Linked DNA regions of Homo sapiens: regions 1, 3 and 4 are each linked to region 2. Evidence: fine-mapped expression QTL. A gene starts in region 2. Each other region holds a variant in brackets. All regions are shown on one strand. Distances are from middle to middle. Region 1 overlaps EEFSEC (eukaryotic elongation factor, selenocysteine-tRNA specific). Region 2 holds the start of RUVBL1 (RuvB like AAA ATPase 1). Region 3 overlaps LOC102723759 (a long non-coding RNA gene). Region 4 holds the start of DNAJB8 (DnaJ heat shock protein family (Hsp40) member B8).

Region 1 (7,543 bases), 120 kb after region 2:
CTGGAGACCAAGAAGCCAGGGTTTGACTCTTAATGCATCATGGGACCAGGACAGCAATGTCTAGTTCTGCCGGGTCAGCTTCTCCTGCTCAGGGGTCTCCCTGCAAGTCTGGTGAGATTTGGCCAGGATGTTTGTGGAGGAGCCTGCCTTTGCAGGGCAGTTCAAACAAAAAGGATGTCCTGCCCAGTGGTGGATACAGTGATCCAGGCTGTTGGCTGGCACTTACCAAGAAACCCCGTGAGGGGCCAGCTCCTGGGTCCACAGGAGTTGGGGGAGGCACTGTTTGTATTCGCTCCATGCTGCCGTTAATACTCTTCCTCTTCCTCCTCTGGAGGGCACAAGGCCTTTGGGTATATGTGAGTCCTAAAGGAAGGAGGAGGCCAGTTCTTGAGCTCTTACTGTGCTGGCATAGTGATACTTGCAGCAGCTTGCATTTAGTGAGTCTGGGGCATGTGGCAGGTGCTGGGTGAGGTGCCCTCCTCCAACTTACTGTGTTGTCTCTGGCATCAGCATCTTCCAAGGAGGAATCCCAGGCTCCAGGAGGTCAAGAGGTGTACTTGCCTGAGGCTGTGCAGCTGGCAGAGCGAGATGCTTACCCTCTGCCCCCGCCTGCCTCAGAACTTGAGGTGGGCTTCCAAGCTGCCACCCCGTTCCTCCTGCCCACAGGCAGCACCCCTCTCTATGAATTCCTTGATCACATGCCTCAGATCAAAACATGCCCTCCCTCTGGGCTGTCTCCTCTACAGGAACCTGAGTTTCCAACTAGAGTGGTAGACACCACTGTCAGTAGAAAACAGAAATGCAATTATTGTTTCTGTTTTACAGATGTGGAGATGGAGCACAGAGAGGGTGAATAGCTTTATAAAACTCCCCTCCATCTGAAACTGTTCATGAAAATGGTGATAACAAGGACCAGGGTCCCTGGAGCCTTCTCCTGTGACTGGGGCCTCCTTTGGCCACCTGGTCCCCACTGGAGGGTCTGGGCCTGGCCAGGAGCCTCTAGCCTGTTAAACTCCTAGCACCTCCTGCAGTCGATGGAGTAACCTGGTGGTTGTTAGCAGCATGGGCAGCATGAATGTTTGGCTTCAGTGAGAGGGCTAAGCAGAAAGGCTGAGAGAGAGTGCATGAGTGTGGCATGCTGCCCTGTGCCCAGGTGGGTGCTAGGTCACAGGCACTGTGCAGGGCCTGGTCGTGACCGCCCTCCTTCTCTCCTCCCCTTTCCCCTTCCCCAACTCCATCAGCAGGCTTTGTCCACTTGTGTTTGCCTGGGGTCTGCCTGGACTAGTGGGGACAGCAGGCCTTGTTACAGTTCGACCAAGAGTGATGGGGCCCAGGTTCAGTGCTCACAGCTGTTAGTACCAGCTCCTGCTTACTGAGGGTGCTTAGGGCTGAGTCTCTCCTAATCTTCTGCAGGAGACATCTTTGTTTAGGTCCTGATTGTGGATGAGGAAATTGAAGCTCCTGGTAAGGTTGTGATTTGAACATATCCAAGCTTGGGGACCTCCAAGCCCTGCTCTTGCCACTTCCTCTTATTTGTGGTCCTTGTTTCCTTGGTCTTTAAAATGACCCTCTTGTTTAAGCCCCTTCCATTTCCAAATCCTCTGAGCCTGTGCTGAGGAGGACAGGCTGGACACTGCTGGTTAGTCCCACACCTTCCTGGTACCAGTAGGAATTTGAGAGGGAAAGTCCAGGCTTACCCTGTTTCAGGAAAACTGCAGAAGGAGGAAAACTAATTCTCCTTAAAACTGATTTTCTCCTTGCTCTCTCTGCAGAATGGGCTGCAATGTGACTGAAGTCTTGCTGCCTTCCCATCCCCTGCCCTTGGCAGAGAGTCAGGGTTGGGACAGCTGCAACCTGTGTTGGATGGAGCCTGATCAGTCCTGGGTTCTTGCCCCTAGTTGGGTGGCTTTGGGCAAGTTATTTAACCTGTCTCAGCCTCAGTCTTCTTACCTGTATAATGAGGAGATAGGCAATACATTGAATAAATGAATAAAAACAGCTGCAAATAATAATATAAGGCTCTCGCCCTGGAGTCTGAGAAGCTGTGTTCTGAGTTGGGGACCTCTGAAACCTGCCCGTTTTGTCCTGGAACACCCGCAGGGGGCTTGTACAGAGCAATTGTTTTATTCTGGACATAAGATCTTGCTGCTCAGAGTTTCAGGGTACTGTTGTAGAGCAAAATCAGTAGACTGAGTTCAAATCCCTCTGAATCCTTGCTCCTTGACCTGACTTGGTTACTTCACCTCTCTAAGCCTTTGTCCTCTCTCTCTCTCTCTTTTTTTTTTTTTTTTTTTTTTTGAGACAGGGTCTCACTCTGTCACCCAGGCTGGAGTACAGTGGTGTAATCAGGCCTTGACCTGCAGCCTTGACCTCTCTGGGCTTAGGTGATTATCCTACCTTAGCCTCCCAAGTAGGTGGGATTACAGGCATGCACCACTATGCCTAGCTAATTTTTGTATTTTGTATAGAGACAGGGTTTCACCATGTTGCCCCATGCTGGTCTCAAACTCCTGAGCTCAAGTGATTCACACACCTCAGCCTCCCAAAGTGCTGGGATTACAAACGTGTGCCACCACGCTGAACCAATTTTTGTATTTTTGTAGAGACGGGGTTTCACTATGTTGCCTAGGCTGGTCTTGAACTCCTGAGCTCAAGTGATCTGCCCACTTTAGCCTCCCAAAGTGCTGGGGTTACAGACCCAGCCTGTTTTCCCATTTGTAATACCCACATTGCAGAGTTGGTGTTGAGATGTAGGTAAGAGGAGATGAAGACATGTAGACCACCACTGTGCATGTCATAATAGCAGATGTAGAAGTGAAAACCGTGGTAACAGCTAATATAATTGAGGATTTCATATGTCTAGGCACTGTTCTAAATTGTTTACATATCTGATCTCATTGAATCTTCAGTGCAATCCAATAACATAGGCAGTATCATCGTCCTTGTATAAGATGAGGAGCCTGAGGCACAGAGAGAGTTAATGTATTTGGCAAATGGTCATAATAATAGTAGGATATTAATTGCCACTGCAGTTTTATATTGTTGATAAAATGTATTTACATTGTTCAATGAATATTTAAAAAGTCACCAGTCAAAAACAAATTTTGGCCAGGCACAGTGGCTCACGCCCGTAATCCTAGTAGCACTTTGGGAGCTGAGGTGGGAGGATCTATTGAGGCCAGGAGTTCGAGACCAGCCTGGGCAACATAGCAAGACTCCACCTCTACAAAAAAATTTTAAAAATAAGCTGGGTATGGTGGCATGCACCTGTAGTCCCAGCTACTTGGGAGGCTAGGACAGGAGGATCGTTTGAGCCCAGGAATTCAAGGCTGCAGTGAGCTATGATTGCACCACTGCACTCCAGCCTGGGCAACAGTAAGACCCTGCCTCTAAAATTAAAAAAATAAATAAATAAATAACAAATAATGGCACACATTTACCTACATAACAAACCTGGTCATCCTGCACATGTACCCCTGAACTTAAAATATAAGTTGGAAATAAATTTTTTTTTCTTTATTTTAAATGTAACATT[T/A]TTTCTCCTTCTTATAATGCCCATAGCTTTGACTTTTTTAAAAAAAAATCTGATTTTGAGGTTGCTAAAATATGTTCAAAGTATAATGTTAAGTTTCTCCAGCTGAAATATTTTTTTCTGAACATATTTTATTCCTTCAGTCCCAAAAGGAAAATTACACCTCACAGATAACTTATGCTTTGTTAAATGCTGACCCTTGTAAGTTTTTCATTATTTTTGAAATGATTAAGATATATAATTTACAGAATTGGAAATTGTAATTTTTAAATGTACTGAGAAACTTTAACCCTATTATAATTATTCTGCAAATCTTTTAAGGATACTATAGTCAGTACAACTAGATGAAAAACTCTGATAGATTGGGAAATATAGAGGATCATTTATAAGCCTTGATTTTTTTGTCTTGTGTTTCCCACCCACTCACTCGCTATGTCCCTCTAGTCTCAGAGCGATTTTCTACCCTGGGTTCATGGGAATTGGGAAGGACACTGTTTGATTCATTCTATGAAACTACTAGGGATTTTGAAAAAGGCAAGACGGGCCAGTTGTGTCACTTCCTGTCGTCTGATCAAAAGTTTGATGAAGAAAAGAAAGTAACTGAGAGCTGCTGCCAGGCAGCAGGCAGTTGCCTGGTGATGACCCCGGGTTTCCAGTGCTAGTCTGGTTCCCAGTGTGGCCAGTCAAGTCCCTCTGACCTCTGGGCTCCTTAGAAGTCCCTGGTGCTGGCTGCGCTGCACGGGGTCCGCTCAAGAGCCTGGCCTTTTGGAACAAAGACGGCTTTTGGATGCTGGATCAGGCTGCAGATGAAATCCCAACTGGCTCCTGAGTGTTTGGGTCCTATCTATGCTTAGTTTTCTGGGTCTGTCAATCAGTTTCATTTCCCATCCACAGGATCTCAATAGGCGTGAGAAGCAAGAGGGCCTGATGCGTGGAGCACATGAGTCATTCCCCTACTGGATAGTTGACTGGATAGTTGTGTATACCAATAGGAAATCGACTGTTGAAGAAGAGGAACAGATTCCTGGTGAATAAAGTAGAAGAGGCAGGGATATGGACATTTGCTGCATTAGTCCAGCAACGATGTATTAAGCTGTGCCCAAGCTGGGTCTTGTGCTGTGAATACAGATTGAAAACCCAGGCCTTGGTTATGAACCCTCAGCATGGAGCCGGGTGGGGCATCAAGGATCAGGGGCAAGTGAACCTGGGGCAGGTGTTCTGGGCAAAGCAGGAGCAGGGGCAAAGGCAAGGAAGGGAAAGGGGCGAGAGTCCACCTGGGTCCTACCTTGATCTTTAGATGGGAAGTGGGAGAGTTGATGGGGGGAGGGGGAGAAATTGTGGGCTGGGTCCCCACTGGGCAGGGCGGGCTGTGTGGCGTGGGAGTTAAGAACCTGGGCACCAGGGTTCAGATCTCTTCTCTGCCACCTACCTGCTGTATAACCATGAGCAGTCAACGGACTTCCCTAAAGCCTCGACTTCCTCATCTGTAAATTAGGGGCTAGGTAGTGGCAGGTGTTTAAGTTCTAGAGGGAACTTGGATAGTCAGAATTACTCTGGAGAAGTCCTTAAGGAACGCATGAGGTTGAGTGGCCTTGGTTCTGTGGGCACAGCTTCACCCACCGGAGAGGGAGGCCTGTGGGGCCAGTGCAGGATCCATTCTGCTGTGAAGGTGGAGACTGGAAAATAGGCTGGGCCCCCAACGTGTTCCTCCCTCCTTGTTCCCTGCTGGGCTTTATCTCATCCTGCCTCAAGACCCAGTCTCACAGCCCTGTGGCCAGTTCCCAGATTTACTGATGGTTAGGACCCGGAAGACAGTTGGGTGTATCTTCTGGGTAGGGAAGGCTTGGGCTCAGCTTGTGTGAGGGAGGCATGAGTGTCATGGGGCCATGGAGAGAGGGCGAAAAGCCCAGGAAAGGGTTTGTGGAGCACACAGCATGGTGCTTGGCACAAGGTGAGTGGGAAGCAACTGGTAGTTAAAAAACAGGGAGCCTCCCACAGCCACATTGGGGAGTCTTTTTTTTTTTTTTTTCCAGTGGACAGTGGGGCTCTTAGCATGAGAAGGGCATGGTCAGGTCTGTGTTTTATTGTATTATTTATTTATTTATGCACTTAAAATTATAATTTTATTTTAGAACAGATACTACACATCCCTGTTTAAAATGAAAAGGAACCGAAGAATGTACAGAGAATTTCCTTCCTACTCATCTTTGGTCTCCCAGCAGACAACCAAGTCATTAGTTTCTTTTGCATTCCCTCAGAGATATTTTATGTGTGTCGAAGCAAATACTTATGCAGTATGTGACACCCACACACGTGCACACACATACACACACACGTATACCTTATCCCCTTTTCAACACAAATCACACTCTGCACATTGTGCCTTGCCCTTCTCACTCACTCCGCCTCGGATATCATTCCATAGTGGTAGATAAAGAGCTTCTTCATTCTTTTAAATGGGTGTATAGTATTCTGTCATGGCATTATAGCATTATATTCTTATTTTCAACCTGTCCCCTGCTGATGGACATTTACCTAGTTTCCAGCATTAGCTGTAACAAACATGCTGCTTGGCTGGGTCAAAGATTATGTGCCTCTGCAGAGGTTATACCAGTTAACCCCCGACCCCCGCTCCTGCCCAGCAGTATATGAATCAGTGATATATTTTTAGAAAGTGCCTTTGGGAAGGCTGTTTGGAGGATGGAGTTTGGAGGGCCACATCTGAGCTGCAGCAGCCCATTAGGGACTAGCCAACATGAGCCTGCCATGGGCTATGGGAACTGGAGCTGGAACAGAGAAAGAGTCCAGAGGAGAGTTGGTAATTCAGTAGCTATGAGAGGGAGTCTATCAGATGAGTCGAGCCTGTTTTTAATAGTCTGTTCTGTTCACGGTAGATGATAGAGTCAGTGTCCATCCCCTCTGTGGCTGTAGCAGAGACCTGGGCCCTCCTGCCCCTTGACCTGGCAGAGGAGATGCTGCTGCTGCTGCTGCGTGCACCTGAGCCTAGCCCTGTGGCCCCAGCTGGCAGGATGAGGAGAGGAGGCTGGACAGGGAGAAGCAGAGTGGGAGACAGGAGGGTTGGGGCATGCCTAGGTCTACCTGAAGTCAGAGAGACACACCGTTCTGTGGGAGGCCAGAGGAGTGTCACAGGACAGGGGTGACCAAGAGGCCTCTTGGAACAGTGGGAAGAATTCTTCAGCAGTGGTGTCAGGAGCCCTGATTTCTAGTGTCTTCGATACTAGTTGGCTGTGTGATCTAGAGCACATGACCTAGACCCATGTCTGTGAGTCTCCGTTTCTTCATCTGAAACATAAGTTTACTGGAGATTAAGTAAGCTGACCTAGTGTGCGTAGTCAGAGTGCCCGAAAAAAGAAAGGCCCTCCCTCCTCCATGCCTTCCCTCTATCCCCAGCAGTGGGATAGAATCAGCATCATCAGAGTCATTCACAGAGCAGTCTCCTCTGCATTGCCAATGACCATAATCCGATCCCGAGAAATGCTTCATGGGCATTCTTATAAGCTCAAAATGTAATTATTCTTCATTTTAATAGGGAAAATGTTTGTATATTCCTGCAGTACGAAGTTACACGCTTCTTGTTGAAATGACTCCAAATCCCGTTAAAAAGGAAACAGTCACTTCACTGGCTAACATTATGTTCCTGACATGATTTATAGCAGTTTCCCTTCATTCACTTTCTGTAACTTGTCTGTCTACCTGCTGTTGTTCAGCTCAGGTGTGCTGTACAGTAGGATGATGCTCACAAGCGTGCACGCACACACACACACACACACACGCACACAAATGTTCAGTACTTAGCGATTATGACACAGAACCTTAGATGCTCCTAACACCCCAGAAGGAATAGGACTGAGCCGTAGCACTGTGAGGAAAAGATGCTGTCCACTCCCTAATCCTCCCCCTTCTGCCTCCTCTACTTTCTCAGTCTTCTCTCATTTCTTAGCAAGGGCAAGTATCTAGCCATTTGCCAAGCCTAGTACGAAACTTTTTTTT
Region 2 (7,543 bases):
GCAGTACACATGTGTGTATATATACACACACATATTCCATAAATGGGCTATGGAACTTCATATATTTTAGAATATTTGACTATAAGGGGGGAACACTGAGAAAGTTACACTAGCTGAGCATCTATATCTCAGGATTACATAATATAAGGTTTGCTACACTGATTTAATAACTGAATACGTGACTATCTAAAAGGTGCTCTTCTCTCTGGGCAGTGACCACACTGTGCCAGAGTCTTGTGAATACATCTTATCTCTTCTACCTCTATTCCTCATGGACTGTGAAGTACCTTGGTCCCACACTTATGGCAGCCCCTCAAAAAATATGTAAGGACTACAGGCGCCTGCCACCATGCCTAGCTAATTTCTTGTATTTTTAGTAGAGAAGGGGTTTCACCATGTTAGCCGGGATGGTCTCAATCTCCCGACCATGTAATCCACCTGCTACTCGGGAGGCTGAGGCAGAAGAATGGCGTGAACCCAGGAGGCGGAGCTTGCAGTGAACCGAGATGGCGCCACTGCACTCCAGCCTGGGCGACAGAGCGAGACTCCCTCTCAAAAAAAAAAAAAATGATGTAAGCAATGTGTGTGGGTATGCTATATCCATCCCATTTCCACTTCAGTTACCAAAGCACACTGCCCTTAATAGAACCTAGAAGATATTCTTCAGATGCTACTTTTCTTTTCTCTTTCAGATGGAGTCTCGCTGTCACCCGGGCTGGAGCGCAATGGCGCGATCTCAGCTCACTGCAACCTCCACCTCCCAGGTTCAAGTGATTCTCCTGCCTCAGCCTCACGAATAACTGAGACTACAGGCGCATACCACCACACCCGGCTAATTTTTGTATTTTTAGTAGAGACAGGGTTTCGTCATGTTGGCCAGGCTGGTCTCAAACTCCTGACCTCAGGTGATCCACTTGCCTTGGCCTCCCAAAGTGCTGGGATTACAGGTGTGAGCCACTACGCCCGGCCCAGATGCTATATTTCTAAATAGATAAAAAACCTAGCCAGGCGCGTTGGCTCATGCCTGTAATCCCAGCACTTCGGGAGGCCGAGGCAGGTGATCACCTGAGGTCAGGAGTTCAAGACCAGCCTGGTCAACATGGTGAAACCCTGTCTCTACTAAATATACAAAAATTAGCCGAGCGTGGTGGTAGGCGCCTGTAATCCCAGCTACTCACGAGGCTGAGGCAGGAGAATCGCTTGAACCCAGGAGGCAGAGGTTGCAGTGAGCCGAGATCGCGCCATTGCACTCCAGCCTGGGCAACAAGAGCAAAACTTCGTCTCAAAAAAAAAAAAAAAAAAAAAAAACTACTATGGTCTTTCCACACAACCCTGTCATATCATAATCCCCAGCACTGAAGCTCTTTGGGAAACCCAAGGTAGAAGAGACTTTACAAACCTTGGAGATGTGCGTTTATTTACAGACCAGGACCTCTTCCATCCATTCTCCCTCAATTTCCACTCCAACTACTCTCAGGTGAGATAAGCTTGAATTCTAACATTTAAAAAGAATTGGAAGGGTCTTTAAAAGATCACCTAGTCTAACTCTCATTTTTCAGGGAGGTTACTGATGTGACCAGAGTCACACAAGAACCTGGTAGCTGAGGTGGGTCTTAGGCATACAGCATCACTCTTAGGCATAGAGCATGCACTTAGGCATAGAGCATGCACTCTGGGTTTAAATACATAGACTTGAGTTAAAATACTGGCTCTCGCACTTACCAGATGAGTAACCTTGGACCTACTTATTTGACCTCTATGAACCAGAATTTCCTCACTTGAACAGAGTTCATACTAGTCAATGGCACACAGGTTAAAGGGTGTAGGGGTAAAGTGTAGTGATGCCTGCAATTCACCTTGAAATGTAAAAGTGGATTGGGAGAGGGACAGATGAAAAGATATATGATAAAGCAGCACAGTAAAATGTTAATTATAGAATTTAGGCACACAAGTATTTACAAGTCTTTCAACTTTTTTTGTGTCTGAAAACTGTCATACTAAAGCGGGGAAGGGACAACTAATACGTTGGATATGACAAGGCAGTGGACATATAGCTACTTAGCACAGTGCTTGGCACATGGAAAGCACTCAACCAATGTTAGCTACTTGCAGTACTAGCTGCTTAGTAAGCCAGGGTCAAACACTTCCTTTTTGGAAAGATGATGCTCAAAATGGAAACCTGAGGCTTTTCTTTGAGGCCTTTCCATTTAGAAAAATCAGGCTAAGAGGCAGTAGCTTAACTTTATATTAAGTGAAGATTTTTGTAGAAGCTAAGGCTCTCCAAAGGCCAAGGGGCATGGCTGTGACCTTAGAGAACAGCAGGCAGAGAGGGTGGCTGTATCATCATAGAGCACTGATTTGGGAGTCAGAAATACACGTGGGTGCAAACCCCAGGTTTACCGTTACTAAAACGAGTGTCAAGCATATACGTGAAGTGCCCTCTCCCCAACTCAATATTTTCACCTGCCAAAAAATAATATGTATGTGAAAGTACTTGGCATCACCAGCACTTAGAAAAAGGAGATTTAATTGGAATGGTCAAAAAGGATGCTTGGAGGGGTGGATAAACCAGATTGCTCTTCTCCATAATTCCCACTTCTCTCCCTCAGTTCCCGGATCCTGGGAACCAAAATGAGCTTTTAAAGTTTAGTCAATTCCCTACTTTAAACCGTCCCATAGCCTGCCACTGCATTCACAATAAAATCCAATTTCCTGACCGTGGCCGACAAAGCCCTGCAGTAACTAACCCCACCAAGATAAGATAATTATTTTTATTTATTGGTGTACACGTTTATCGTCTCTCACTACACTAAAATGTAAGCTCCTATCTTAATTCCCGCTGTATCCCAGTGTCGCGAATAGAGCCTGGTACGAATTAAGGGGACGGGGTTGTGTGGGTTTATATCAGCACTTGTCCATGAGTTGGCAAACCGTCAACTGCCCCCAGTGGATCGTCACTAGGTATCCTGGGGCGGCCCCTCACCCAGCTCCAGGGCGGCGCCCCTCCCCGAGCCCCTGGCCCATTTTCACTTCCCTGAGGAAATAATGGCGGGAGACCCCTGGCGCGCGCATCCCGCCCCGAGCCACCGACTTCAGCAGCTCTCTCGCCGCAGCAGCCCTGCTTGCAGCCCCCAACTCCCTGGTCCACTGGCCACACCTCTCGCGCGTTCTCCTGGCCCACAAGCCCTGAGGCCGCCTGCTTGGCCAAGCCGCTCTCGTCCAGCCCCAGCCCTTTCACGTGGCTGTGGGAGGCGATGCGCTGCGTCTTCGTAGTGCTCTTCACCTCCTCAATCTTCATTTTGCAGACGCCGGGAGCTAAAACCAGCGTGGAAAACCAGCAGCTAGGACAGTGCGCCCGGCGCCTGAGTTACCATGCGGCCGTTACTAGGGCAATTTGCAAAGGCCCGCCTAGACCGGCTTTCCATTGGTGGAAGCGGGAACACCTCCGCTCTCCATAGGCTCACGGCTGCGCCCATCGCGGCTGCTGCTAGAGCTCCGGTCACCCACTTCCGTCTGTGTCTCCGGGTTGGCTTCCCCCGTAGCCGGCGCTTCCTGCCGAGGCTGGGGTCGGGAGCACAGTGGGACCACGCCCCGGATTTGATCTAGGGCTGGGGCGTTGCACGAGGCAGTGGCCCCCGGGTACCACTCCTAATCCTTCCGTCCTATCCATTAGCACATTTGAACGTCATACTCTTACGCAAATCTCAAGTTATTATTTCCGTTTTGGAAACAGAAGAACTGAGGTTCAGAGCTTAAACTGGGATTGGTTACTAACCAATGTTTTCTGACTCCCATACCTTTGCATCTCCCTGGAAAGGCCCAGCTCAACCCACCACCGTTTCCGTGGAATTGTCTTCCCCTGCTTCTATCCTCCATCCTCCACCGAGAGATAAGGTTCCTGCTGAGTTCAGTTGACTGTAAATAACATTTTGCAGTTTTCAAAATTCCACAGCCCTGTAAGGTAGTGTAATTACGCATGCAGCTACAAACAAGCGGAAAGAGGCCCATCCGCCCAAGAAAGCATCACAAATAATCAGAACTAGAAATCTTCAGGCTTCAAAACCTATATAATAATGCTCATCACGTCCCATGACTCCAGCTGAGACAATCAGCCAGCAAATTGTCCCTTCAGGTTTCATAATGATATTAGCACAACCTGCACCACAATTGTACTTGCCATCCATCCATCCATCCGTTCAACAAACACGAGCCAGACACCACAATGCACTGGGGATACAGGGATAAAAGTCTTGATGCGTTTACTTCTTGCTTAGAAAACTTGCAACGTGAGATGTGCTGAGACAGGTACACCCAGGTGGCGAGAAGACCAGAGCAGAAGCCCCCGGAACAGCCTGGAGAGCCAGGGAAGGCATCATGAAGGTGATGTTGCCTTGGCTGAATTCCAACAAATAGGAGAGATTTCCTCAGAAGCAAATGGTATGACACCATTTTTACAGAAGAGGATACTAACATCCAGAGGAAGGGAAGGACTTGCCCAGAGTGCAGGAGAGTTTATGTTAGAATTGAGACAGACCTGAAATCAAATCCAATTACAGTAGTTCCACAGTCTCACACCGCCTTTTTTTTTTTTTTTTTTTTTTTTTTTGAGACGGAGTCTTGCTTTGTGGCCCAGGCGGGAGTGCAGTGGCGCAATCTCGGCTCACTGCAAGCTCCGCCTCCCGGGTTCACGCCATTCTCCTGCCTCAGCCTCCCGAGTAGCTGGGACTACAGGCGCCCACCATCACGCCCGGCTAATTTTTTTGTATTTTTAGTAGAGACGGGGTTTCACCGTGTTAGCCAGAATGGTCTCAATCTCCTGACCTCGTGATCCGCCCGCCTCGGCCTCCCAAAGTGCTGGGATTACAAGCGTGAGCCACCGCGCCCGGCCTCTCACACCTCCTTGTACATCTTGATTCTAACATTTGAATCTAGGTTTCTATATACTTTTTTCTTTTCTTTTGAATCTAGGTTTCTAATGATTTGCATAATTACTGGGTCAATGTTTTTCTCTCCCAGTAAACTGCAGGCCTTTTGAGGGTGTAGACCACATTTGATTGTTTACCATTTTAACCTAAGTGCCTGGCACACAGCCTACAACACAGCTCACAATTAAGGCTTCTCATGAATTCAATTAAGGTTCTAGACCACACACAAACACATACACTTGAATTCATCAGTTTTGCTGCATGTATTTTACACGTTGGCTTTTATAGGACTTGGTAATGATTTCCATCAGTGAATGGAATCTTTTGGCATTTTCAGGGCCTAAAAGAACAGAGGCCAGGCCTTGGAAGGCTGAGGTTGTTACTAGGGCATGTGGTTCATCAGCACTAGAGACAGCACCCCACAAAGTTGCTTAGCCCCTCATTGACTTGTTCCTGGTCATTACTCTTAGAAAAGAAGCAATTCCTTTCTCTATATGGAGAAGGAAACTTTTCCACCAACTAGTAGTCAAAGTGAGGCATTCTATGGGACTGACTTCTTTGTGTATTGTCCAATTAAGGAAAAAGACTTTTTTTACACTTATTATTTCAGCCCTAGTCTTTGTATCTTTTGGCACAGAAAGAAGGATTTCCTTCTAGTCCAAAAAGAGAAAGGGAGAATCAGGATTTTAGAGCACAGAGGAATATCCCCTGGATTACTTGGTCTAGTGGTTTTCAAACCACATTCCCAGCAGTTGTGGAATCCTTTTGTGGCCAGTACGGGTGGGGACAGGGAATGCTGAGAGTGTAGGATACCAGCTCCATGCCCCCACTTCCACCAGAGTTGTTCCTTTGTGTGTGTGTGTGTGTGTGTGTGTGTGTGTGTGCTAAATAACAGTTCAAACATCACTGATGGGCCAGGGGCGGTGGTACACGCCTGTAATCCCAGCACTCTGGGAGGCCGAGGCAGGTGGATCACCTGAGGTCAGGAGTTCGAAACCAGCCCGGCCAATATGGCAAAACCCCATCTCTACTAAAAATACAAAAATTACCTGGGCGTGATGGCAGGCGCCTGTAACCCCAGCTACTCAGGAGGCTGAGGCACGAGAATCGCTTGAACTCAGGAGGTGGAGGTTGCAGTGAGCCGAGATCGTGCCATTGCACTCCAACCTGGGCAACAGAGCAAGACTCATCTCAAAAAAAAAAAAAAAGGTCATTGATCTGGCCTAGCATTCTCATTTTACATGTGACGGAACTGAGGCCCCAGGAAGGGACAGGGTTTGTCCAAGGTCACAAATTGAGCAAATGCCTGACACAGATCCAGTGTGTAAAGATGCTGGACCTGGCTGCAAAGTCAGACAATTTCTTTCATTTCAACAGAAAACAATGTGGCAGGCCAGTATCCAAGCTACACAAGTCCAATAAACAGCAAGTGAGGCCTGCTGCAGTGGACAGGGTTATTCCTGACCAGCGTCCATCCCACTTCTGCGCACCACCACTCTCGTTTTCCTTCAGGAAATGACCGTTCTCCCACTTTGAGTCTGCGTAGTTTGGGCGAACTGACCCCACACCCCATGTTTGTTTCAGTGGTAAACACGTGGCCCTGGCCTGACCTATCAGTATCCCATCCTCTCAGACACTGTAATTGGCTCAGAAATGTGAGCAGCTAGTTCAATGACAGTCAGTCCTGGCAATTTACTGGACATATCAGGAGAGAAAATGTAGGTAATGGATCTGCAGGCTGGTCTTCTTTGTTACTTCATGGGGAGACTCTACCTGAGAATGAAGCCAAGACAGAGGAAAGGAAAGCTGACAGAAAGAGATTCCCGATGAAATCCTTTATATCCCTGCATCATCCTCGCCTTACTTGCAGTGTAACATGGCATTTACTTTGGGGCTTAAGATGTTTGAGTTAGATTTCTATCTGTGGGTACTGAAAATCCATATCAATGTAGTGACACATATGTAAGTAATTGTGTGGACTACTACATTCCAGAATTGTGCTGTGACAGCCCTAGACCTGCCAGCTCTCATTCCCTCACTCCCACGACCCTCTCATTCCCTTACTCCCACGACCTTTGCTCTTTCACCTCCAGGCCTTTGACCTCTCTTTCTCCAGCCCAAGCTTGATTATCTCAATCACTTGTTTCCTGACCCTTCTGCTCCCTCCTTACCTTGACTTCTATCACACCTGAACTTTGAACCCACAAGCCCAGGTCAAGCCTCCCTCTGCCTTCTTCACTGCCTCCTGAGGGCTACTGTGTGTGGCAGGATGCAACTACCCAGTGGTGCCCTGTAACCACTGCACAGTCATGGTCTCCAGCCTCAACTGGAGCAACCCAAGTAATGATTAAATGTTGTTATTTGGCCAGGTGCAGTGGCTCACGCCTGTAATCCCAACACTTTGGGAGGCCGAGGTGGGCAGATCACTTGAGGTCAGGAGTTCGAGACCAGCCTGGCCAACATGGTGAAACCCCATCTCTACTAAAAATACAAAAATTAGCCAGGCATGGCAGCACACACCTGTAGTCCCAGCTACTCGGGAGGCTGAGGCAGAAGAATTGCTTGAACCCAGAAGGCAGAGGTTGCAGTGAGCCGAGATTGCGCCACTGCACTCCAGC
Region 3 (7,543 bases), 90 kb before region 2:
TGTCGCTCAGGCTGGAGCACAGTGGCATGATGTCAGGTCACTGCAACCTCTGCCTCCTGGGTTCAAGCGATCCTCCTGCCTCAGCCTCCCAAGTAGCTGGGATTACAGGCATGCACCACCACACCTGGCTACTTTTTGTATTTTTAGTAGAAGAAGGGGTTTTGCCATGTTAGCTAGGCTGGTCTTGAACTCCTGACCTCAAGTGATCCTCCCACCTTGGCCTCTCAAACATCTGGGATTACAGGCATCAGCCACCACACCTGGCCATGGCTATTGTGAATAGTGCTATAGTGAACATGGGAGTGCAGATATATCTTTTGCACATACTGACTTCATTTCCTTTGTATCTATACCCAGCAGTAGGACTGGTAGGTCATAGGGAGTTCTATTTTTAGTTTTTTGAGGAACTGCCATATTGTTTTTTGGGGTTTTTTTTTTTTTCTTTTTTTGAGATGGAGTTTCACTCCTGTTGCCCAGGCTTGAGTGCAATGGTGCGATCTCGGCTCACTGCAACCCCGCCTCCTGGGTTCAAGCAATTCTCCTGCTTCAGCCTCCCAAGTAGCTGGAATTACATGCACCTACCACCACGCCCGGCTAATTTTTGTATTTTTAGTAAAGACGGGGTTTCACCACATTGGCCAGGCTGGTCTTGAATTCCTGACCTCAGGTGATCTGCCCACCTTGGCCTCCTAAAGTGCTGAGGTGACAGGTGTGAGCCACTGCACCCGGCCTGCCATATTGTTTCTCATAATGGTCGTACTAATTTACATTCTCACCAACAATGTACAAGAGTTCCCTTTTCTCTTGTTGTCTTTTTGATAATATCATTTGAACAGATGTGAGGTAATATACTATTGTGGTTTTATTTGCATTTCCCTGACGATTAGTGATGTTGACCATTTTTTCATATACCTGTTGGCCATTTGTATGTCTTCTTTTAAGAAATGTCTATTCAGGTCCTGTGTCTTTTTTTTCCAGACAGGGTCTCTCTCTGTCACCCAGGATGGAGTATAGTGGCACAATTATGGCTCACTGCAGCCTCAGCCTCCCAAGTAGCTGGGACTACAGGTGCATGCCACCACACCTGGCTAATCATTTTATTATTTGTCAAGACAGTCTCGCTATGTTACCTAGGCTGGTCTCCAGCTGCTGGGCTCAAGTTATCCTCCCTCCTCTGCCTCCCAAAGTGCTGAGACTACAGGTGTGAGCCACCATGCACGGCCTTCTTTGCTCATTTTTAATAGAGTTATTTGTTTTCTTGCTATTGTGTTCCTTACACATTTTGAATATTAACCCCTTATCAGATATATGGTTTGCAAATATTTTCTCCCATTCCATAGGCTGTGTTTTCACTCTGATAATTGTTTCCTTTGCTGCGCAAAAGCTTGTTAGTTTCATATAATCCCATTTGTCGATTTTTGCTTTTGTTGCCTATGCTTCTGGGATCAAATCCAAAAAAAACCATTGCCTAGACCAGCATCATGAAGAATTTCTCCTATGTTTCTTCCAGTAGTTTTATAGTTTCAGGTCTTACATTTAAGTCTTCACTCCATTTGGGTTGATTTTTATATGTGGTGTGATAGGATCCAACTACCTTTTTCTACATGTGGATGTCCAATTGTCCTTCCCCATTGTGTGCACTTGGCACTTTGTCAAAGTCAACCAACCATTTATGCATGGGTTTATTTCTGTTAAGACACTATTATTTTGAGATTTAATTACCACTGGTATATCTTAATTCCTAGACTCATCACACTACACGGTAGCGGTGTGTCCACATTTCTTTCTCCTGTGCCAAGACGGGAGCTCCTCCATGGCCCACAGCCTCAGCACAATGCCTGGCCATTAAGACTCAGAAGCAGTCTCTCATACATCCTGTTAGCCCTTCCCAGCTTCTTCTAATGGCCAGATATTTTACATATATTATTCATGTCCTTCACCAAGTAATGACTGAATTACCTATGTGCTAGGCCAGAAGCCAAGTGTGCATTTTTACAAATCTTCATAGGTACTCTGTAAAGTAAGCACTACTCTACAAGTAGGAAAGTATGACTTGCCCCCCTCCCTCTACATTATCTGCCTGGTGCAACTCAAAGCCTGGCTAAGTCTGACTCTCCTCCTGCCTCACTCTGCACCCCAGCAGTTAATGTTGCTGGGGAAACAGCAACCAGGGGACTGGTTTTACTTCAAAGTCAAGACCACAGGCTGACAGAGGCGTTTGGGAACCTGGGCACATTAATGGGTCAGGACACGCTCTCATTGTCTTAGTGGGGCTGTCTCAAGAAGATGCGGGTGGCAAACCTCAGCACAATGGTACCTGAGGGAAGGCTGCCTTTTAGGCATCTTTCAGGGCCTGCGGGATAGCATTAAATGCAAAAATACAAAATTACATTTTAATGATGTTCAGAAAAGAGGAGTAAGGCATAGCACCCCAAGATAGCCCCCAAGATGTGGGCCTACTCCAAGATGACAGAATCACAACCTCTCCTGTCCCTTCCTATTCCATCTTCACCCTCAGTTGATGGTGATCTTGCCTCTTCTTTCACAAGAAATTAGAGCAATCTGAAGAGAATTCCCTTATCTTGCTGCCACTAAATCTACAGGCATCTGCTCCCATATATTCTGCTGTCCTGTCCCAATACACAAGCTTCAAGGGCTCCTATCTAGGGTCAGCTCCTCCATTTGTAAACCAGTCCCCATTTCTTCCTGCCCATGAAATTCCTCATGTGTTAGCATAATCCTCCTCTTTCATGACGTTTTCACCCTGTAGTGGATTATTTCCATCAGCATCAACAGACATTCTGTCAT[T/C]TGTCCCCTCTTTTAAGATCCCCTAGCAACTTCCTGTGCTCTCCAGCTCTTACCCCAATTCTCTGCTCCTCTCTACGCCAAATCCTTTAAAGAGCTGTCCATATAGGTCATAGCTACTTCCTCATCCCCAGTTCTCTACTGAACCCTCTCTACTCAGGCATCACCCCATCATCTTCTGAAATTGGCTTTGTCAAGGTCATTAATAAGCTTGATGTGGCCAAACTCAGTGGTCAATTTTCAGACCTCGAGTTATTTAACTCCAAAAGTAACACATGAATCAAGAGGTCAAATGTAACCCACAAATGTGTTTTGTTTGGACAACACAGTGTTGGTTTTTAGTTTGAATTCACTGCCAGCATTAGAAATCAGGATATTCACATAAAAATCTAGATGTCAAGTTTCTCTGGAAAAATCTGAAAGTCTAAGCTCACATTCCTACCTGGCAATAGACTGGCAGTGAGTCATGGCTGACTCTGGAGACAGGGCATGGGGTTTCCAGTTTGCCAGTCCCCACCACTCAGGATTGGCACATTCAGCTTGCTTCACTTACTTATGTCACTTTCCTGGCACCTAGAGGCATTTGCATTTGTAAACTCTAGAGTAAGACTTAAAACTCACAAGTTATGAGCACCTATGTTTCCTGCTTTATGAAAGAAGACAAAACAGTGGGAGAGAATACAGTTTGTGTGTATAAAGCAGCAGCGCTGAGAAGCAGTGAACCTCAGCAATGGCTGAGTTTCTGGTTCTAGGCATCCTAAGTTTCTGGTTCTAGGCATTCCAATCCATCCTGCAGTTCAGCTGTTCAGCCAAACCTTGAAGGTCATTAGTTTTCGTATATCTTTCCTCTTGCGCTGATTTTCTACTTGATCTTCTATCTTTAGACCAGTGATACAGCTTTTAATTGCTAGCTTATTTAACCCTTGTATTGGTTCACTGATTGTTCCACTGTTCATGTTAGTTATCTGGTTTTGCCCACCTGAGCTGAACTCCTGGAAGACAGATACAAGTTGACACCACGGTTCATCAAAAACAGCTTTGGTAGTACAAGTCATTCATTTATCTCTCAACATAGCAGTATAAAGATTTTCTTTTTTCTTTTTTCTTTTTTTTTTTTTTGAGACAGAGTCTTGCTCTGTCGCCCAGGCTGGAGTGCAGTGGCACGATCTCGGCTCATTACAACCTCTGCCTCCCAGGTTCAAGCAATTCTCCTACCTCAGCCTCCCGACTAGCTGGGACTACAGGCGTGCGCCACCATGCCTGGCTAATTTTTGTATTTTTAGTAGAGCCGAGGTTTCGCCAGGCTGGTCTTGAACTCCTGACTTCAGGTGATCCACCAGCCGTGGCCTCCCAAAGTGCTGGGATTAGAGGTGTGAGCCACTGCACCCAGCCAAGATTTTCTAATATGTATAATTTCTAGACCAACAGTATTTTATTTTTTTTGAGACAGAGTCTCACTCTATTGCCCAGGCTGGAGTGCAACGGTGCAATCTCAGCTCACTGCAACCTCTGCCTCCTGGGTTCAAGTGATTCTTGTGCCTCAGCCTCCCGAGTAGCTGGGATGACAGGCGCATGACACCATGCCCAGCTAATTTTTGTATTTTTAGTAGAAACGGGTTTCGCCATGTTGGCCAGGCTGGTCTTGAACTCTTGGCCTCAAGTGGTCTGCCCACCTAGGCCTTTCAAAGTGCTGGGATTACAGGCGTGAGCCACCATGCCTGGCCAACCAATAGTATTTAACTATATGTTGCAAAATACATAAAATCATATATGTGACTAGATCATAGTGAAGTGCACTGTGAGTAAGCTCTTAATAATAGTTTTCTTTGGTAGAAATCAGATTGAGCCATCATTTGGCCTTTTAAAGTGGTTTCCTGAAAGGGGAATGAAGGTGGTACAGAGGCCCAAGGGACTGTTTGCACATATAACTGTCACCCATAACAGACATCCCTGCAGGAAAAAACTATTGCAACTAGCTGTTCTAGAAGCCCAAGTCCATCCCATGATCATTATATACTTTTCTATAATGAGAACGGAATACATATAAAATACACCTTACAATTCCCTTCAAGGACTGCTACACCAAACTGAAAACTTTCCTCCCCTTTTTAGGTCTCATGGACGTCAATATGAATAAGTTTTATATAGTGGTATTATGGGCTGAATTTTGTCCCCATAATATTCATATGCTGAAGTCTTAACCCTTAGTACCTCAGAATGTGATTGTATTTTGGAGATAGGGTTTAAAGGAGTGACTAAGTTAACATGAGGCTATTAGTGTGGGTCCTAATTTAATATGACTGGTGTCCCTATAAGAAGGGGAAATTTGGACACCACAGAGAGGTACCAGGGGCGCATGTGCACAGAGGGAGGACCATGTGAAGAGGTAGCAAGAGGGCCATCTGCAAGCCAAAGACAGGCCTCAGCAGAAACCAACCCCACAGACACCTTGATCATGGATTTCGAGCCCCCAGAACTGTAAGAAAATACCCCAGCCCTAGCAAACAAATATAACCTGGGTTAAATATGAGTATACTCAAGAGCAATTCATATACAGCCACCACTTACCCCTGCATGGAACAGCCCAGGCTGCTGTTTCTGCATTTGCTTCCCGTGGCAGCTATCACTTCTTATTGCTGGTAATGCCTTCCTTTGCTAACATCCTGTCCCTTTTACTAAACTGACATTGCCTGAAAAGATAGATACCCATAAGAGTTAAAACTGTAACTTTAGTGACATCAGTGAAATTAACAGAGTAAGGACCTCTGAAAATTCTCTCCTCCATAAAGGCAACATGAAGCCTAGCAAAAATGGTCAAAATCACGTATTCAGAACTCTGAAAAGTAACCAAAGGCTCGCAGCAGTCTAGGAGCATTTATTCTGGAAAAACATTTGAGTCATGATGAAAACAGTGAGCTCTGTCCTCCTTCATCCTCTCCCTGTTTCCTAGTTCTGCAGTTACCTTGAATACCAGCAGCCTGGCAGTCTCTAGAGGAAGCAGAATAGAGTTAGAGTTCCTTCAATGCTCTATTCCAACAGAAGTCCTATTATTTGACTTGTCTGGAAGTTCTCTGGAAGATCCCACTTGCAAGGCTGTCTTATTTGACTTGAGTTGAAACTCAGAGCTCACCCAGCGCAAAAAGCCTTTGCCCGGGGGCATTTCTCAAAAACATTTAGAGGGAATTATTTAATTTCACAACTGCCTGAGGCAGTGAGTAATGTTTAGGACAATTAATAGGTTACCCGAAAGGATTTTTTTTTCAACTGGGAAATGGGCATCCATAGGGGCTTGGAAAAGCTCCAAAATATTCCTATGAATCTAGAAGGCCATTTGCACTGGCAGAGCACATATTTATGCCCATGGCTGTTCACATGGTTGGGATAACCTGAGAACACCCTAAACTCTAACATCAGGCTGACCTTGAGGATCTACACCAGCAGAAAGTGAAGGCTAAGGCAGAGCTGTCAACTGCATGCTGAGTGTTGAACACATACGCAGAGCCTCTCAGCAAACATTAAGAGACCTATTGGTTTCAAGTGTTTCAGGAAATCTGTCTAATCATTAGCTGACATTAAGCTATTCAAACAGAGACTTCAGTGGCCATATAGAACAAAGAATACAGAGTTTACAGAATTTGTGCAGGTAAGTTACTAAACAAACAAACAAATAACAAACAGCAACAAAAACATACCCTGGGGATGGGGGAAAATCTGATTTCCAAAGTTGACACACTTTTTTTTTAATGTCCAGTTTTGAGCAAAAAGTTATTAAACATGCAAAAAATAAATAAAAACCGAAAAAGTATGGCCCACACACAAGGAGAAAAAATCAACAGAATCAACAGAAATTATTCCTGAGAAAACCTAGATGCTGGATTTATTAGGAAAATATTTTTAAATCATCAATTTTAAATATGTACAAAGCATTAAACATGTTTAAAGCATTAAAGGAAAGTATGAGAACACTATCTTACCAAATAAAGAATATCAAGAAAGAGATATTTTAAAAATAGAAATTCTGGAGTTAGGCCAGGCGCAGTGGCTCACACCTGTAATCCCAGCCATTTGGGAGGCTGAGGCGGGCAAATCACCTGAGATCGGGAGTTCGAGACCAGCCTGACCAACATGGAGAAACCCTGTCTCTACTAAAAATATAAAATTAGCCAGGTGTGGTGGCACATGCCTGTGAGCCCAGCTACTCGGGAGGCTGAGGCAGGAGAATCACTTGAATCTGGGAGGCAGAGGTTGCAGTGAGATTAAAAAGGAAGAAATATTTCAAGTCAATAACTTAACCTTCTACCTTAAGAAACTAGAAAAGTGGGAGCAAACTAAACTCAAAGCAAGCAGAAGGAAAGAGATAATAAATATTGGAGTGAAAATAAAATAAAAATAGAGAAAATCAACAGAATCAAAAATTTTATTCTTTGAAAAGATTAACAAGGTTGAAAAATCTTTAGTTAGACTAATTAAGAACTAAAAAGTCTCAAACTGGTAAAACCAGTAATGAAACAGGGACATAATTACAAATTTTACAGAAATAAAAAAGATTATAAACTAATACTACGAACAACTGTATGCCAAAAAATACATAACTTATATGAAATGGAAAAATTCCTAGAAAGACACAAACTACCAAAACTAACTCAAGAAAATGGAAAATGAATGCATGTATTATAGGAGATTAATTTAGTAATTTAAAAAAATCCCACCAATGGAAATTTAGGTCCAAAGTCTTCAT
Region 4 (7,543 bases), 340 kb after region 2:
CACTATTGAATGGGCTGTCCCAGAACTCAAAGGAGAAAGGGTCCAGGCCACCAAAAAACTCCCGGAAGATGTCCTCAGGGTTACGGAAGGTGTAGCCGGTGTCGAAGGGGCTGTGGTAGGGCGTGCTGGCCCCGCCACCAGCCCGCCAGCTGTCACAGCCAGCACGGTCATACAGGGAGCGTTTCTTGGAGTCAGACAGAACCTCATAGGCCTCAGACACCAGCTTGAACTTCTTCTCCGCCTCCTCCTTATTGTCAGGGTTCTTGTCGGGGTGCCAACGAAGGGCCAGCTTGCGGTAGGCTTTCTTGATGTCCTCCGGGGAAGCGCTGGCCTGCACGCCCAGCACTTCGTAGTAGTTAGCCATGGCCAGGGGTGTGGGTGAGAGGAGAGGGAACGTGGAGGCCAGGTGGGCGCAGGGGCCCAGCTGGTCAGATGGACGGGGGAGAAGTGGCCGGTGGTCTGGGGCCCTTCAGCAGGGGCCTGGCTGGACTCCGCAAGCTCTAGGCAAGATTCTGCCCAGGAGTTCACCTTTTCGTAGTACCAATTCTCAGGGACTGGAGGGGCCCCCACTGAGAGGAGTGGGGGGAGGGGAGGGACACTGCCGCTGTGGGGCCAGGCCAGAGTGGGCTGCCCTCCAGAGCTCCTTTTATGACGTCAGCTCCCGGGGCGGGGCATACCCCCGCCCCCAGCTCCTCACCAGGCAAACCTGGGCATATGGGCCTGCCCCTGCTGGTGAGGTGGCCACAACGGTGTGTGGGAATGGGATGCTCTGTGACCCAGGTGGTGTGGGCTGAGTCCCGGGAGCCAAAGGGCAGAGGCAGGATCAGCCACGGGATTCCAGCCTTGGTGAGTGACAAAGGTCTGTGGCCGTGGTGGGGGAGGCGGGCAAGGGCGTCCTGGGTATGTCCACTCGGCCGATGGCTGGGCAGCAGCTGAGGCAAGAGGAGGCCAAGGTGGGGTTCAGGCAGGCTGGGGTGGGGACAAGAGCCTGCTTTTTTTGTGCCCATTATCTGGCCAGGTCTTCCGGGGTAAGCTCCACAAAGGCGGGAAAGTCTGTCCCTGTCTAGGACAGTGGCTGGCACACGAGGGCCGTCGGTAAACTCTTGGATGAACCAGGCTCAGAGACACACAGTGCTCAAGGTCACACAGCGAGTCAGTGAGGGAGGGGATGTGAAACCAGGGCCAAGGCTGCAGCGGACAGCAAATCCAAAGAAGTGTTCCACTCAATTCTGGTAAGAAAAATAGGAATTGATGATAAATATTGATTACTGACTGTAGTGGGTTGAATGGTGGCCCCCAAAAAGATATGTTCCTATCCTAATCCTTGGAACCTCTGAATGTGAGCTTATTTGGAAAAAGGATCTTTTCGGATGTAATTAAATTAAGGATGTCGAGATGAGATCATCCTGGATTATCTGAGTGGGCCCTAAATCCAGTGACACATGTCCGTATAGGAGATGGACACTGACGCAGCTGGAAGCTGGGGGCCAGGAGGGTTCTCCCTGCAGCCTCCAGAGGGAGTGCGGCCCCACTAACACCTCGATTTCAGACCTCTGGCCTCCAGAACTGGGGGAAGAGATTTCTTTTGTATTGAGCTACCCAGTTTGTAATAATTTGTAACAGCCCTAGAAAACGAATCAGGTGAGTGAGGTAACCAAATATTCTTAGGCATTTATATTCCTTTAATTCTTGTTCTGGTGTTGGATCATATATAGAAACAGCAATTCACAATACTGATTAATATCTGTTCCTACCTTCACCTCACCCCACTCCAATTAAGATCAAAACCATGCTAAACCACCTACTAACCACACCAATAAAGAGCCTAGATGTTTGGGTCACCAAGTCTTAACTAAAGATAGCCTTCCTGCCTGCCTTCTTTCCTTCCTCCCTTCCTCCCTCCCTCCTTCCCTCCTTCTTTCCCTTCCCTTCCCTTCCGTTCCCTGCCTTCCTTCCCTCCTCCCTCCCTCCCTTCCCCCTCCTTCCTTCATTTCCTCCTTCCTTCCTTCCTTCCTTCCTCCCTTTCTCCTTCCTTCCTTCTTTCTTTCCTTCCTCCCTCCCCTTCCCCCTTCTCCCTTCCCTCCCTTCTTCACTCCTGGCTTCTTTCCTTCCTCCTTCCTTCCTTCATTCCTCCCTTCTTCCTCCTCTTCCTTTTTCTAGTCTTCATCCCTTTCTATTATCCTCCCTCTCTCTCTTTTCTTTCAGTGCTCATGGGTGCTAGGTTTCAGGCTCCTAGCAGGGGACAGTGTGTGTTCTAACCAATCCCAAATGCCAGGAGGAATGGAGACAGACTGTAGAGACACTTTGTAAACCCAGCCTCCAGTGACCATCGCTGTCCCTCCATGCAGCTTATCAAAAGCACGACTCGCACCCCCATGCTGGGCATCCACCCACCTACACCTGCTGACACATGTGGCTTAGCAGAGGAGTTGAAGAGCAGAACTTCTCCACTGGATGTAGCTACAGATGAACCTGATTCTTTATCTCTGTGGCTGGATTTTTGTCACTATGTCTCGGTTAGCAGTTAGCACCTGCTGTCCCTTGCAGGCTTGTTCCTGGGGCGGGAGAAAGATGCTTGCCCTGCACAGTTCTCCATGATGGCGGTGGCAGTGGGAGAGGCACTGCTGTTGACTGTGTTGCTGGTGGGGAGAGGCACGGTGGGTGTCCATGGAGATGGATAAGGTGTCATTATATAGTAGAGGTGACCATGGGAGCAGTGTTGATGTGGAGGTAATGGTCATGGTGGGTGTGAGGGGGAGAGTAATTATGGGTGATGGTGGAGTTGATCATGATGATGGTGATGCTGGTGGTGACAGCAGCAAGGCTTGTGCTTGAGAGTAATTGATGATGGTAGTGGTGGTGGTGATGGTCATGCCAGAGGAGATGGTAACAGCGAGCCTTTGTTGTGGTTGGCAGTGATGGTGCAGGTATGATGAGGAGGTGATGGGAATGGCTCCTAGTGAGCCATTGGTGTGGTTGGCAGTGGTGACAGTAATGGTGATGATGAAGGTGAAGGTGGTGGAGGTAGCAGAGGTTGTATCTTGTTCGGCTATACCACAGTGACAGCTTCCACCTCTCAGTGGCTCACGACAAACATCTAGTTCCCCCCACTTCACTCACTGGTGCCTACAGGCAGCTGCCAGGGCCCCACCTCCCATAGCTTCTCACTGTGGGTCCCAGGCTGGAGAATCAGCTCTGACCTGCACACCCCTCTCTCATGACAGTGCCACTCAGAGACAGCAGGAACTTGGGCTGCCTCTGAAAGCTTCTGTTGGGCCATGATGTGTGGCAGTCTTGCTGCATCCCATGGTCAAGGCCAGTATCCATGGGGCAAAGAATGTTTCCTTCAGGAAGGTTCTGCAAATCTCAGGGCAATAGGAAGAGAGGCCTGAGATTCCCATGGGGAAGAGGGAGTGAGCAGTTCTCCAACATATGCCAGATGCTCAAGATGGGACTGACAGCGGGGCTGGTAACGATGGCTCTGCTGGGAGCAGTGTTGGTGCTGCTGGTGCCGGGGACACCCGTGGTGGTGATGGGATAGGAGGCAGGAATTGTGCTATTAATGGAGGATGGTGGTGAGGGTGGTTGTGGAAGAGGCAATGGTAGAGGGGGGTGCCGAGGGGTGAGAAGGACACAGTGGTGGACATGCTGGTGTGAGTGCCGATGGCGATGGTGATGGCACTGAGGTGTGGGGCTCTGTATTTTCTGTTGCTAACTTGGCATTACACCAACCTCTTCCATGGTCTCCTTGCATCCTGGAGAAATCTGAGGGATTTTCCAGAATCCCATCACCGGTATAATTCCAGACTAGAGCCTGCCAATACAAGGGATTTGGAGAGTGGAAAAGAGAGGCCGTTGCAGGCAGGTGACAATGGTGAGCTTTGCAACAGCTCGGGGCAATCTTCTGCGAAGACCCTGCTTCTGAGCCACAGGCTGAGGCATGGATGGGGAGCTTCCTGGAATACCGTGAGCTCCTCAGCAGCTCCCAGGCAAGCTCTAGAGAGCCGCTCACCTGGGAGCTGCAGGTGAGCATCTCGATTCCTTGTTCCCTGACCGCTGGTCCCAGACTGTTCAGGGTGCAGCGTGTAGTAAATGTCCTCCTCCTTGGTACACATTTGAGGGCTGTGTACTGTGAGGGTGATGGCGGCTCAGATGAAGGTGGTGGTT[G/T]TGATGGAGTTGGGTGTGAGGATAGCAGAGAGAAAGCAGATGGTGACATCAGGAAGGCATTGGAGGGGCAGTGGTGGTGGCAGTGATGATGGTGGCAGTCTAATTAGAGGCAGTGGTGGGTCTGGCTGAGGCAGACCCGGTGGTGGTGATGGTGGTGGTAGTAGAGGGGGCAATGACGGTGGTGATGGCAAAGGCGGTGTGAGTGGTTGATACTGGTGGCAGAGCTGATAAGGTGATGTCACAGATGGGATGGTGGGTGGAGATGGAGGTGGAGGAAGTGTGGTGACAGTGATGTGGTGGTGACACAATGCTGACACGGGTGGAGAGCACCGTGGTGACGGTGACAGAGATGATAGTGATAGTGGGGCTGGTGGCAGTGGTAGAGGAGATGGGGATGGGACGCTGGGGTGTTGATGGTGATGGTGACACTGCTGAGGGTGTTGGTGGCCTGACATTGTAAAGGTGAAGCCTGAAGTTTCCATGACGATGGAATCAGGACAGTGGAGGAGGGGTGGTGAAAACAATGTTAAGAGACAAAGGACCTAGTATGATGAGGCATCCAAGAATCCTGTGGCCGCCTCCCCGTCCTGGCCCTCCCTGCCTTGTTGGAGACCCTGGCTCTGGTCTGCGTTGTACTCCCAGGGGAAATTTCTTCCAGCCACTGCCCTGCTCCAACCCTTGTTCCTGGGATGGGTCTGTGGGAGTCAGCCAGGATGGAGACAGGGCTGGAGACCCCCTCACTGCCGCCCATTCAGGGCTGTCTTAGGGCACACAGAACAGACCACTCGGTAGGACTTACGGGAACAGGTGTGTCACCTGGGAGCAGGTCCCACACCTCACCATCAAGGGCATCCTGAGATGGAGGCCCCTGTGGGGAGCTCCCCATGAAGGGAGCTGTGGACCGTGGAGCCGGGCAGTGTGCAGAGGAGTTTCCCTTCTGCAAAGGGTTCAGGCTAGTCTCCTTCCACGCCAGTTTTTGGGGAGCCAGTGGGGAGCATCAGGGGCTCTGAGGCCTCCATAGGGCCTGCTGGAGGGACAGGGACACACAGGCATGAGCGCACACTTAGGCCCCACACGCTCCACCGTCAATTCTGTCAGGCCACCTCCCCTCTTCAAGCCTCTCTGTCCTCATTCACCAGTGGGTGCTTTTGGGGATTTGCCCTCTCTGGGGAGCCAGCCTAGGCTTCCTGGCCTCAGATGTCCCATGTCCCTCATCTCAGGCCCACCCTAAAGCCAACCCCGAGCCATGGCCAGGGAGAGAAGGACCTTCAGCGACCAAGCGAGGCCCAGAGAGGGCAGGGCACACCGAAGGTCACACAGCAGTACCAGGAAGGTCTCCCCCGGGCGAGCTGATGGAGCCGATTAAGCAGCCAATTGGTATTCGGAGCAGCCAGAGGCCCCTCTCTGTCTCTGTAATTAATGGAGTGGCTTTTTAAAAGGATTCTAATCACCCCCGATCCTATCTGCTTATCACTAGAGTTCCTAATTAGATGATCCTGGCAGTCACTCAGCTAATTCCCTCCAGCCCCCTGCAGGCCTGCCTGGCCTGGGCAGCCCACCCCACCCCCGGCCACCCTGGCCCGGCCAGATGGGCAGTTTGGGGCCTTCTCTCCCCTCAGGGCCCCTGGTCCTCTAACTGCATTAGCTCCAGGATGGATGGGCGACAGCGATGGATGGATGGACGGGCGGCTGGATGGACAGAGTGGCAGGCGAATGAAGGGGCTGAACGGTGGGCAGTCACAGAGTGGATGGGCGGATGGACAGACAGACGGGCCAAGGGGCAGATCCCACAGTGGGGAAGAGCTCAGCCTGTCAGGTGACACAGCCTGGGTTCCAACCCCAGCACTGCCACTCCCCAGCCATGTGTCCTTGGGGAAGTCAATAACCTGGCTGTGCCCCAGTGTCCTCATCTCATCTGTAAAAGGGAAGTAATGATGGTCCCCTCTCACAGGGTTACTGTGAGGAGCTCAGAATGGAGAAGGAGCTGTGTGTGCGTGTGCTGGCATCCTGGCAGTGTCGATAATGGGTGGGCAGAGACAGATGAAAGGGCAGCCTGCCTGGTGAGCCAGTGGAAGCCATGGTAGGCAGACAGGCCCATGGCAGGCTTACATGCAGATTGGTGGCCCATGGGGTGGGAAGGCGGTGGGCTACGCAACCGTAGAAGGGCCAGTGAGCTCACGTCCTCCCCAGTGGTGCCAGGGCGATCTCAGCTCTGCTCTCAGACCTCTTCAGGCAGCCTTCCTGCCCAGTCCTCCAAGCCAGTGATGACAGGTGCCCACTGGGTTGCCCAGATCCCTTCCCTGCCATCCCAACCCAGGTACATCCTTCCTGGTGGTGGCTCATGTGGTCTCTGGAGGCTCAGATCTAGCCCCAAGTAGGGGTTTACTGCCTGAGTGAAGGCATCATTTGCGGGGCCCTCTGAGTTCCAAGTTGCTTCAGCCAGTTAGGGCAGCTCCCCTCCTCCAGGGTCCCAGCACCCAGCCCCCCTGGCATACAGCAACCCTAGGCAGGGCTGTTACCCTGAGTTCCTCAGTTACTCGAAGCCTCCAGGAGGATCCAACCCCCAGAGCCTCTCCATTCACCCACGGGGCTCTGCAGTTTCCGGGGTGTGGCATTTCCGGGGTCTTTCTGGAAACAGTATAGAACAAAAAAGCCTGAAGTATCTTCCAGAGTAAAGGCGTGCATGCGTATGCACACATCTGTACCAGCAGATAGCCACCCATCTCCCCATACACACACCCATCAATCCACCCACCTAGCCACACACATACCCAGCTACCCACACACCCAGCCACTCACATACCCAGCCACTCACCCACCCAGCCACCCACATGCCTAGCCACCCACCCACCCAGCCACCCACACACCCAGCCACCCACCCACCCAGCCAGCCACTCACCCACCCAGCCACCCACACAGCCAGCCACCCAGCCACTCATACACCCAGCCACCCAGCCACCCACCCACCCAGCCACCCAGCCACCCATACACCCAGCCACCCAGCCACCCAGCCACCCATACACCCAGCCACCCAGCCACCCACACACCCAGCCATTCACACACCCAGCCACCCCCCCACCCAGCCACATGCACACCCAGCCACCCAGCCACCCACACACCCAGCCATTTGCACACCCAGCCACCCACACACCCAGCCACCCAGCCACCCACACACCCAGCCACCCACACACGTTTCCTGAGCAGTTGTCCATACACGTGCCGTGTACCAGGCACTCCCCTGGGTCTGGGGTCCATATGTCAGTGAAGGCACCAGACAAAGCCTTGCCCTTATGATGCTGACATGCAGTTGGGGAGATAGGAGAAACTGATAATGCATGAACATTTAACATGATGGCAGGTGTCATAGATGCCGTGA

The links. PIP is the estimated chance that this variant, and not a neighbour inherited with it, causes the effect. A credible set is the group of variants that fine-mapping cannot tell apart.
Region 1: its variant is the best candidate, but not a certain one, in a credible set for the expression of RUVBL1 in whole blood (INTERVAL, PIP 0.59).
Region 3: its variant is the best candidate, but not a certain one, in a credible set for the expression of RUVBL1 in whole blood (TOPMed, PIP 0.65).
Region 4: its variant is the best candidate, but not a certain one, in a credible set for the expression of RUVBL1 in T cells (TOPMed, PIP 0.81).

The regions. Positions count from the first base shown.
Region 1 is chr3:128,238,927-128,246,469 of GRCh38, forward strand. The region is part of intron 1 of EEFSEC (eukaryotic elongation factor, selenocysteine-tRNA specific); the gene reads left to right. Among named protein-coding and RNA genes, the nearest start is that of EEFSEC, 89 kb to the left of the region's middle. The variant T/A (reference allele first, on the strand shown) is at 3,536.
Region 2 is chr3:128,120,427-128,127,969 of GRCh38, forward strand. RUVBL1 (RuvB like AAA ATPase 1) reads right to left here and starts at 3,386. Exons shown (of 11, transcript NM_003707.3): 1 at 3,158-3,386. The coding sequence starts at 3,298. RefSeq lists an enhancer at 3,138-3,187 and a silencer at 3,378-3,437.
Region 3 is chr3:128,030,006-128,037,548 of GRCh38, forward strand. It overlaps LOC102723759 (a long non-coding RNA gene), which reads right to left. Exons shown (of 4, transcript XR_007096073.1): 3 at 5,374-5,495; 4 at 1,990-3,797. Among named protein-coding and RNA genes, the nearest start is that of SEC61A1, 19 kb to the right of the region's middle. RefSeq lists a silencer at 6,161-6,455. The variant T/C (reference allele first, on the strand shown) is at 2,809.
Region 4 is chr3:128,462,882-128,470,424 of GRCh38, forward strand. DNAJB8 (DnaJ heat shock protein family (Hsp40) member B8) reads right to left here and starts at 4,009. Exons shown (of 3, transcript NM_153330.6): 1 at 3,733-4,009; 2 at 2,395-2,555; 3 at 1-1,229. The coding sequence starts at 364. It overlaps DNAJB8-AS1 (DNAJB8 antisense RNA 1), which reads left to right and starts at 713. Exons shown (of 3, transcript NR_037890.1): 1 at 713-846; 2 at 1,019-1,232. The variant G/T (reference allele first, on the strand shown) is at 4,168.